Homo sapiens: one gene and its partners. The protein of the gene in region 1 interacts with the protein of each later gene in a pairwise test. Each region holds a gene or a part of one and is shown in the gene's direction. Other genes may lie near its edges.

Region 1 (3,752 bases):
TGTATTTGGTTGGACTGTAGAAATGGTATGTGCAAGGTTTTGGGAGTTGAGGCAGGAAAGGCATTTTGAAAATGTGAGTAGAATGGTCAGGTTGGAACACTGGGTTTGAATGGGAGTGGAGTGAAGCAATGGCCTTTGCAGTTTACAAAGCTTGCTGTCATGTTCCTGCCCCCTCCCTTCTCCTTCCTCCCACCTCCCTTCTCTCTTCCCTTTCTTCTTCCTCTCCCATTTCTTTTCTCCCTTCACCTAAACATAACATCTCATTCCATCCTTACGTCTGTTTGTTTGTTTTGAGACAGTCTCCCTCTGTAGCCCAGGCTGGAGTGCAGTGGCACAATCTCGGCTCACTGCAACCTCTGCCTCCCAGGTCCTGGTTCAAGCAATTCTCCTGCCTCAGCCTCCCATGTAGCTGGAATTACAGGCACGTGCCACCATGCCCAGCTAATTTTTGTATTTTTAGTTGAGACGGGGTTTCACCATGTTGGCCAGGTTGATCTTGAACTCCTGACCTCGTGATCCACCTGCCTCAGCCTCCCAAAGTACTGGGATTACAGGCATGAGCTGTTGCGCCCGGCAAATTTATTTATTTATTTATTTATTTATTTATTTATTTATTTATTTTTTATTTTATTTTTTTTTGAGATGGAGTCTTGCTCTTTTGCCCAGGCTTGAGTGCAGTGGCACGATCTTGGCTCACTGCAACCTCAGCCTCCCGGGTTCAGGCAGTTCTCCCTGCCTCAGCCTCCCGAGTAGCTGGGATTACAGGTGCCCACCACAACGCCCAGCTAATTTTTTTTTTTTGAGAGAGAGTTTCACTGTTGTTGCCCGTGCTGGAGTGCAATGGCACGATCTTGGCTCACCGCAACCTCCACCTTTCAGGTTCAAATGATTCTGCCTCAGCCTCCAGAGTAGCCGGGATTACAGGCACGTACCACCATGCCTGACTAATTTGTATTTTTAGTAGAGGTGGGAGTTTCTCCATTTTGGTCAGGCTGGTCTCGAACTCCCGACCTCAGGTGATCTGCCCACCTCAGCCTCCTAAAGTGCTGGGATTACAGGCTTGAGCCACCACGCCCAGCATGCCCAGCTAATTTTTGTAATTTTTAGTAGAGACGGGGTTTCGCCATGTTGGCCAGGCCAGTTTTGAACGCCTGACCTAAGGTGATTCAGCCGCCTTGGCCTCCCAAAGTGCTGGGATTACAGGCATGAGCCACCATGCCTGGCCTTCCTTATGTCAACATTATTAAGTGGATATTATTATTCTTTGTATTTGAAGGTGGAAACCTGAGGCTCTGGCCATGGTTGTGTAGCTCGTAAGATTCTATGAGGAGTCTGTAATCATCCTACTCGGTATTCCTGAGTGTGGGAAAGAAGCTAGGCTGGGGTTAGGGGGTTGTAGAATTAGCAGGGTGGCTGATCAAACCATCTAAGGCAAGATGGCGTGGGTGGTTAAAGCATAGCCTTGAGCCAGAGAGATTGGGCTCAACCAAATCCAGCTTTATTACTTACTAACTGTAAGACCTTGGGCAAGTTGCTTAATCTTGCTAAGCCTCAGTGTCCTCACTTATAACAGGGGAGCAGTAATACCCACCTCATGGGATTGTTGTGAGGATCAATGAGGTGTACCTGGTGCAGAGCAGTCGCTCACCACCTGGAAGCTATTGTAATTAGCCTTCCCAGGTCTCTGGGCTGTGGCTGTGCACTTGCATTTCATTCTTCAGCGCCGTGCTTTCCAGAACAGTCCATTCTGGCTGGGCTTTTCTTTTTTAGGATGACCTTAAAGGTGCTGAAAGGATGCCACCAGTAAATGTTTATTGAAAACCTACTATGTGCTCGGCATAGCCCAGGAACTAGTGACCTATGCCTGATGGAAAGGAGATTTGGAGTGGGAGATGTTTGGTGGCTATGGCTTATCCTCACCAGGTGCCATGTGAAGAGGACAGATAATGGAAGTGGGGAGGGAAAGGGCCCTTCATTACCAAGAACTGAGATGAGTTCAGTCCTACTTGGTGGTTGGTAGATGACTGACATGGTCTCTTAGGGTCCCTTCTGAGCCCAGGAAATGGTAGTGGGGGCCCTGGCAAGCATGGATCCCTCCTACTCTGTGGCTGAGGGTTGATGGGGCTTCTGTCCATCTCTTTTCCCAGGTGACAGCGGCATGGACATATGCCCCAGGCTTTCCTGCTGGGGTCCATCCATGAGCCTGCAGGTGCCCTCATGGAGCCCCAGCCCTGCCCTGGAAGCTTGGCTGAGAGCTTCCTGGAGGAGGAGCTTCGGCTCAATGCTGAGCTGAGCCAGCTGCAGTTTTCGGAGCCTGTGGGCATCATCTACAATCCCGTGGAGTATGCATGGGAGCCACATCGCAACTACGTGACTCGCTACTGCCAGGGCCCCAAGGAAGTACTCTTCCTGGGCATGAACCCTGGACCTTTTGGCATGGCCCAGACTGGGGTAAAGGGTTTGGCTTCCCCAGTGGGTGGAGTGGGGGGTTCTAGGTGGATGCTTGGCTGGGTGTGCTGTGGAGAAGGAGCATGTGCATGGCTGTAGACATGTGTAGGTCCTCCCGCCCCATTCTGTCTCAACACATATACTGGCTCCTGTGGTCCGAGGCCCTCTCCCAGCGTCTCTGCCCGTAATTAACCAAGCACATTAATGGTAGTTTCGTTTTCCCTGTGAGCTGGCCAGTAATTGCCTCTGAGAGCCCTTCCTTCCGCCAGCCCCATCCTTACTTTACTGGATCTCCCCTGTCCCTGAAGTGTGGTTGGGGTCAGAAGAGGGACTAGGACTGCTGGGTCCTCAGAAGAGACTGGTTGACAGGGGTGGGTATGTAAGAGATGCAGGGCGTTCTGGGAACCTGGGTTCTGTTTCCTAGCTAAGGCGAGGTTCAAAACAGAGCCTGGCTCCAGTGCCTGCCCGCTTTTCTTTCAGGGCTCAGGATGAGTGACTGCCCCCAGTGGGGGTGCTTGGCAGGTGGGGGAGGGGAAGAGGCTTCAGGGCAGAAGGCTCAATCGCTTTTATTGACCCCAACTGGGTGATGAAAGGTGATCAATGATGATCGATGGAAATGACAGCCTGAGGCTTGGGGCTGAGAGGGCATCCAGACAGCAGTGGTCAGCCCATCCTTGTGCCTCCTTTAACCCTGGCTGCCTTTCTGTCTCAGACCATCTGTCTGTCCCCAGTACTAACCATCAAACCCTGTGTAGGGCTAGATATCTCAATGTAGTCCCTGTACTTAGTCCCAAAGGCTAGTTGGGCTAGAGGGAAACAAATTCTTCTGGACCACGGTTCACAATGAAGAACTGGAAAAAGACAGACAGGCTCAAACCATAGGGCCAAGAATCCTTGTCTCAGGCCTTTGGGTGAAGGTAGGGGTAGGGGGTGCAGGCTGGATCCTCATGTAAGGTATAAAGAAGTCAGTTGGTCCAGAGCCCGGGCCTCAGGTCTCCAGTTTGAAGCCTTTCATGTCTCTCTCCTTCCTCACAGGTGCCCTTTGGGGAAGTAAGCATGGTCCGGGACTGGTTGGGCATTGTGGGGCCTGTGCTGACCCCTCCCCAAGAGCATCCTAAACGACCAGTGCTGGGACTGGAGTGCCCACAGTCAGAAGTGAGTGGTGCCCGATTCTGGGGCTTTTTCCGGAACCTCTGTGGACAGCCTGAGGTCTTCTTCCATCACTGTTTTGTCCACAATCTATGCCCTCTGCTTTTCCTGGCTCCCAGCGGGCGCAACCTTACTCCTGCTGAGCTGCCTGCCAA
Region 2 (3,339 bases), on another chromosome or scaffold:
TAGAAAAAAGTTTCCATTCCACTTCTGAATGAAAGTAGTTGAATGCAAAAAAATCCATACTTTGAGAAAAGAATGTGCGACATTACTTAATATCTGATCCCTCAGAGTATTCTTCTACTGAAATTGCTTATATAGGAATGGATGACATTAAAACAAGAAAGCAACTTCAATTTAGGCGGGCTAAATATTTGTGTGGCTATTTTGATATTCAATATTTTATTGACAAACACAACAGGAAGATTTGGAATCTACTAGAATGCTTTTTGGCTATTAATAATTGAGAAGCCTAATAAATAAGAATTGTTTATTCCAGAAACACAGAACAAACTATGTTACTTAATAAATGAAACATGATTGGAGATCAATTTGTCTCCTCAAAAGTTTAGACTTATAAAGTCTACAATTTGGAAGGAAGTTGAGCAATTATCTCCAGCCTCCTGTCAGATTGGAATTCCACTTACAACATCCTAATTAGATTTTCCCAGGGCCCTCAGTATGGAAATATCATTAATTGCAAGAGCAACTCATTTTAGATTTTTAGCTGAATCTTCCCCTAAAACTTTTACCTAGTAATCCTGATTCTTCATAGAAGGGAGTCTCAGTTCACTTCCATTGTAGAATACATCAGTTCTGAAGATGGATGTCTTAAGAGGTTTGCCCATTCCCACAGGTTAAGGCATTTCCTGCATCCGTGCCATATATCTATTTACAGTTTGCTCTGATGAACTTTCTGAGCGAATCCAGAAAAATCCTCATTACTCTAGTACTCTAGGCAGAATATATATGTCAGCTGATACATCAGAGGTCACAAAGGCATTCACTCTCAATTACACATTATCATCATGTATCCTTCCCACCCCTTTATTTCAATTTATAAAGTCATTTGTTACTATGAATTCTTTACATATTTTATCTTTCTGTGAATACTACATGGGATAGACATTTCCCTCATTTCTTGCTTTTCTTTTCCCTCTCTGGTAAAAATGTCACCCTCTGAGAGAAAAGAAAGGAAAAGATTAACGATTTACATTTTACTTATAGTGCTTATTATTTTCCTCTCAGTAACATCAACATGACCAAAAATTACTTATACCTTATGGGGATAAACGGTTTTTTATAATCAAACTTATTGATGACTTCTATGAAGAAGCAAATCAACCTTTGAGTAAGGGATTTCTTTAGTAGTTTTACAATGTAAACTTCAAAGCACTTGTTCAAAAATTTCACCCTTCATTCTTAACTCTTCATGTGCACAAGAGTGACTTAGCTACTTGTGTTATAAGAAATCTAAACTTAAATATGTTAGGCACTCATTTAGCATGTCTACCAAATAAGGATTGTTATTGGGTTATTTCTTCTAATGGTTCAAAGAATTGAAAGAAGGAATAGATATTGAAATTTTTTTTCTGTTCTCAATTGAATTTATAAAATTGGAGCAAGATCAAAGTCCCTTCCAGATTACAAGGTATTTTTCAGATCTTTACAAATACCAGAACTCTCAGTGTCTTAGCCGTTTGATCCAATTTCTAGAAGGACAGGATGAATGAAGCATCAAGTTTTTTTCTTTGTTTTTTTGTTTCTTTGTTTGTTTGTTTGTTTTGGAGATGGAATCTTGCTCTGTCTCCCAGGCTGGAGTGCAGTGGTACGATCTCGGCTCACTGCAAACTCCGCCTCCCGGGTTCAAGCAATTCTCCTGCCTCAGCCTCCTGAGTAGCTGGGATTACAGCCGCCCACCACCATGCCCGGCTAATTTTTGTATTTTTAGTAGAGACGGAGTTTCACCATGTTGGTCAGGCTGGTCTGGAACTCCTGACCTCGTGATATGCCTGCCTCAGCCTCCCAAAGTGCTGGAATTACAAGTGTGAGCCTCCGCGCCCGACCCTTTGAAGCATCAGTCTTATAGGTACAATTATGGTGGTTTTCATTCTACCTAAGCAAGATGAATGAGAAATGGCATTTTTGTTTCATGAACAATTGCTTTGAAAAACTAATGAAATTCTTTCATGTAGAAGTCTACGTTCATAAATAAAATTCTTTGAGTGTTAATATATTTCATTTTGACTGCAGCCTAATTAAGTGTTCTCATTAGAATGGGCACTTGTGACTACACCTATTGCTAGAGTATGTCAGTGTCCAGTATAGAAGGTAACATTCACACACACACGCTCCTCACTGCAAATCACCTGAGCTCAGAACTCCTGTTAACATGTCTTACAACTGCAGCTCTGGAAACTTCTCCTCCTGCTGTTTTGGAAGTTACCTGAGGTATCCAGTTTCCACTTATAATTTGTTCTACCCCAGCAATGCCATCTATTCTCCAAATACCTGCCAACTGGGCTCCTCTCTCTACAATGGCTGTCAGGAGACCTACTGTGAGCCCACCAGCTGCCAGACATCCTGCACTTTGGCCAGATCCTATCAGACATCCTGTTACTGCCCAAAGAATTCCATCTTCTGCAGTCCCCGCCAGACTAACTACATAAGATCCCTTGGATGTGGAAACACTGGCCTTGGATCTCTTGGTTGTGGAAGCACTGGCTTCCAATCTCTGGACTGTGGGTCCAGCTTCTACCACCCAACTACCTTTTCATCCAGGAATTTCCAGGCAACTTGTTACTAACCAGCCTTTGGGTCTCGCCTTTTTGGATCATCTTACTGAATATTCTCCATTCTCTCATGATTATTTCTGTACTCTATGGAACTGCAACACTCAGCCTGTCCAATATCTGTGATTGTTGACCATCTACATCAGTAGGACTCAGCATCCTAGCCCTCTTGGAAGTATATGATTGAACACGGACAAATTAATCTTGACCTAGGACCCTTCCTAAATCTGACAGGAGATATATCTTGAATTTCAATTTTTGTGCCAATGCTCAGGATCATTTCTGTTATCATCTTTCTAAAATCCTTCTCTCATTATTTTCCCAGAACTCTTCCACTCAAATATATTTCAAATAGTTACAATATTTTAAATAAGCTTATTTCTTTGGCATGAATTCTGGCATTCCATTTTATTTTGTTAATACAATACACTTAGGCTGGGCATGATGGCTCACACCTGTAATCCCAGCACTTTGGGAGACTGAGGCTGGCGGATCACTTTAGGTCAAGAGTTTGAGGCCATCCTGGCCAACACAGTGAAAACCCATTTCTACTAAAAATACAAAAATTAGCAAGGCCTGGTGTGCACCTATAATCCCAGCTACTCAGGAGGCTGAGGCAGGCGAATCACTTGAATCTGAGAGACGGAGGTTGTAGTCAGCTGAGATCATGCCACTACACTCCAGCCTGGGCAACAAAGTGGGACTCTGTGTCAAAAAATAAATAAATAAATAA
Region 3 (3,752 bases), on another chromosome or scaffold:
ATTTTTTTAGTTTTAGTATAGATGGGGTTTCACAGTGTTGGCCAGGCTGGTCTCGAACTCCTGACCTCAAGTGATCTGCCTGCCTCAGCCTCCCAAAGTGCTGGGATTACAGGTGTGAGCCACTGTGCCTGACCACGAATTTATTTCTTTATTTTCAGGCTTTCTTGTTAATCATAGATTATCTTTGAAAATTCAAAATTAGGCTGGGCGCGGTGGCTCATGCCTGTAATCCCAGCACTTTGGGAGGCCGAGGTGGGTGGATCATGAGGTCAGGAGATCGAGACCATCCTGGCTAACACAGTGAAACCCTGTCTCTACTAAAAATGCAAAAAAATTAGCCGGGCCTGGTGGCGGGCACCTGTAGTCCCAGCTACTCGGGAGGCTGAGGCAGGAGAATTGCTTGAACCTGGGAGGCAGAGCTTGCAGTGAGCCGAGATCGCGTCATTGCACTCCAGCCTAGGCGACAGAGCAAAACTGTCTCAAAAAAAAAGAAAAAAAGAAAATTCAAAATTATTTTTAAATAAGTACATTGGTATTTAATGTATTTTTTGTTTCTATTTATCATTATAGGGAAATGGTAGGTGAATTGTATTGTTACTCTTATTAGAAAAAATTTCAAAGAAAGAATCTGAAATGAAATGAATTGTAAATTGCACTGAATATTTGAAATAACCTTTACTATGTGTTTCTATGTGTTTTCTAGAAATAGGTCATTTTCTTTTTGCCCTCAAGTAAAAAATGGAAGTTCTCCTTTAATTTCTTACTTTTCTTCAAGAGGTAAACAAACTCTTCAAGAATTTGGTGTGCAACTTTGATTTTTTTTTTTTTTTTTTTGAGACAAAGTCTCACTGTGTTACCCAGACTGGAGTGCAGTGGCAGGATCTTGGCTCACTGCAACCTCTGCCTCCCAGGTTCAAGCAGTTCTCTTGTCATGGCATCCTGTAGCTGAGCCTGAGCGCCAGCTGTCACTCCTGGCTAATTTTTTTGTATTTTTAGTAGAGATGGGGTTTCACCATGTTGGCCAGGCTGGTTTTGAACCTCAGGTGATCTGCCAGCCTTGGCCTCCCAAAGTGCTGCTAGGATTACAGGTGTGAGCCACCGCCCCGAGCCGCAACTTCAATTTTTTTTTTTTTTTTTTGAGATGGAGTCTCGCTCTGTTGCCCAGGCTGGAGTGCAATGGTATGATCTCGGCTCACTGCAACCTCCGCCTCCCGGGTTCAAGCATTTCTCCTGCCTCAGCCTCCTGAGTAGCTGGGATTACAGGCATCCGCTGCTACGCCCAGCTAATTTTTGTATTTTTAGAAGAGACGAGGTTTCACCATGTTGGCCAGGCTGGTCTCGAACTCCTGACCTCAAGTGACCCACCTGCCATCAGCCTCCCAAAGTGCTGGGATTACAGGTATGAGTCACTGCACCCGGCCTGCAACTTTGATATTTTAAAAAGAAATTCTTTTGAAACTAAGAGCTTTCTTAATAACCGTACTTCTCAAAATCAGAGTTTTACTGTTTCAATAAATGTTCACCCTAGATTGTAAGTTTTTTGTTGTTGAGCCCTAGATTTTTTTCTACTAGTGTAAATCTGTATTCCCTCCAAGTATGGTGATAAGGGGACTGAGTCTTATTTACATTTGTACAATCACTACTTTACCTGTTGTATTTGCAGTAAGTCTTTTGAGCCCTATTAAACCTGTCAATTTTCTTGTCCTGTCAGAAAACTGAGATTTTGGCTCAAAAATGGATGTTATTAACAAAGGGGAACAATATAGATGTCTTAGTACAAAGAAAATGAAATGTAAGAGGAGATTGTCTGGAGTTCAGGGGATAGAGTGTCAAGTCTTAAATGGTTACATCTTTTTGCTAAGTGTTACTCAGAATATAGTTACAAATATGGTACTTAAATATCTAGCTGAAATTTGTTTGTCCCATGAGCTTCTCACATGAGTCTACTGGGCAATTTTATGTGAGTTTTGGTCAAAATTGGTAATCTCTTTTATCTTAGTTTTGCATAATTTATTGTTGCCATTTTATCAAATGAGTAGGAAGTAGTGAAGTATTTCAAGAAGATTGCTCAGTGGGGTTTGATACAAGAACTGCCCAGTAGCTGGGCGACATTCAGAGCTCTCTCTCTGAGGTATATAAGAAGAGCCCTGGGAGCTCCTCACTGAGCCTCCTGTGAGTCAGGACATAGCCTTGCAGTCTGCCACTGAAGCAGCCTCACCAAAGCAAAGATTCCCTGCTTTGGAAGGGTGGTGGGCAAGATAAAGTCCTCCAAAGTAGTTATAGATTATTCTTTTTCTGGAGTAAAACTTACCTGCTCAGAGTTGTTACACAGCTGTATAAAGTCCTTAATGCTTTTAATTCTCAGGTGGTTTTGAGGGAAGGAGAAGAGCCTGTGATTTTCCTTCTGTGTATCTTTTTAGTGCTTAGAAATTACTTGCCAAAAAAAAAAAAAAACACGAAATTACTTGCAAGCTGGTTATGGTTGCTTATGCCTGTAATCCTAGTGCTTTGGGAGTTGGAGGTGGGAGGGTATCACTTGAGCCCAGGAGTTCAAGACCAACTTGGCAGCATAGCAAGACCCTATCTCTAAAAAAAAATGGGTATGTGTGGTCCCAGCTACCTGGGATGCTGAGGCAGGAAGATTGCTTGAACCCAGGAGTTAGAGGTTACAGTGAGCCATGATCATACCACTACGCTCCAGCCTGGGTTACTTGCAAACTAACAAAAAATCCCTTATAATTTTGTTTGTAATGCCTAAAGTGTTGATTTTTTTCCTAAGAATTCTTTACTGTGACCTTTATTTTCTGAGTTGTAATATTGTCTGTTTTGGTTAGAAAAAAAAAAGTTTAACCACAGAAATGCATGTTACATATTTGATTTTTACTTAATTGTAATATGTAATATATGTCTTGTTTTGCTTTTACTTGTTTTCAGCTACTACTTATACATGTGTGATAAAGTGGTTGCCCCAAATGTGTCACTTACTTCTGCTGTATCCCAGTCTAAAGAGCTCACAAAGACAGAGGCAAGTAAGTCCATATCAAGACAGTCAGAGAAGGCTCACAGTAGTGGTAAACTTCAAAAAACAGTGTCTTATCCAGATGTCTCACTTGAGGAACAGGAGAAAATGGATTTAAAAACAAGTAGAGAATTATGTAGCCGTTTAGGTAAGTATTCAGAGATTATCTTTCTAAAATTAAATATCTAATGAACACATTTATTGAGCATTTTCAAACAGGCTTTTTGTTTGAGCTAAATTTTCAGATAATTGGAGCTTTTACCTTTAAAAATGCTACCCTTCAAAACTCTGGGTGATTTATTTTAATCTCAGTTGCTATACTTTTCTAGCGTGGTGATAGCTCAGGAGACTGAGATAGATACAGGCTACCTGGCCTCAGACTGCAAGTTATTTTTGTCCGAATTTTTTTCCTTTCCTACCTTTTATTTGCTGTCAGTCTTCAGGAGATCCTTGTTTTTCTTTCCTCCTTTTTTTTTCTTTTTTTGTGACAGAGTCTTTATCGCCTAGGCTGAAGTGCAGTGGTGAGATTGCGGTCACTGCAGCCTCAACCTTTGGGCTCAAGTGATCCTCCCACCTCACCCTCCCTAGTAGCTGGGACCAGAGGCGCACACCACTGTGCCTGGCTAATTAAAAAAAAAAATTTTTTTTTTTTTTTTTGTAGAGATGGTCTTGGTATGTTGCTCAAGCTGGTCTCGAACTCCTGGGCTCAAGTGATCCTCCTGCCTTGGCCTCT

What was found.
Region 2: the proteins of SMUG1 (region 1) and KRTAP15-1 interact in binary tests that used the Homo sapiens proteins (3 or more experiments, as listed by UniProt).
Region 3: the proteins of SMUG1 (region 1) and SKIL interact in binary tests that used the Homo sapiens proteins (3 or more experiments, as listed by UniProt).

The regions. Positions count from the first base shown.
Region 1 is NC_000012.12:54,182,355-54,186,106, reverse strand, and holds part of SMUG1 (single-strand selective monofunctional uracil DNA glycosylase), read left to right. Parts: intron 1-2,147; 5' UTR 2,148-2,166; coding exon 2,167-2,451; intron 2,452-3,483; coding exon 3,484-3,752.
Region 2 is NC_000021.9:30,438,122-30,441,460, forward strand, and holds KRTAP15-1 (keratin-associated protein 15-1), read left to right. Parts: upstream 1-2,153; 5' UTR 2,154-2,206; coding exon 2,207-2,620; 3' UTR 2,621-2,748; downstream 2,749-3,339. UniProt on the Homo sapiens protein: In the hair cortex, hair keratin intermediate filaments are embedded in an interfilamentous matrix, consisting of hair keratin-associated proteins (KRTAP), which are essential for the formation of a rigid and resistant hair shaft through their extensive disulfide bond cross-linking with abundant cysteine residues of hair keratins.
Region 3 is NC_000003.12:170,381,599-170,385,350, forward strand, and holds part of SKIL (ski-like protein), read left to right. Parts: intron 1-2,934; coding exon 2,935-3,167; intron 3,168-3,752. UniProt on the Homo sapiens protein: May have regulatory role in cell division or differentiation in response to extracellular signals.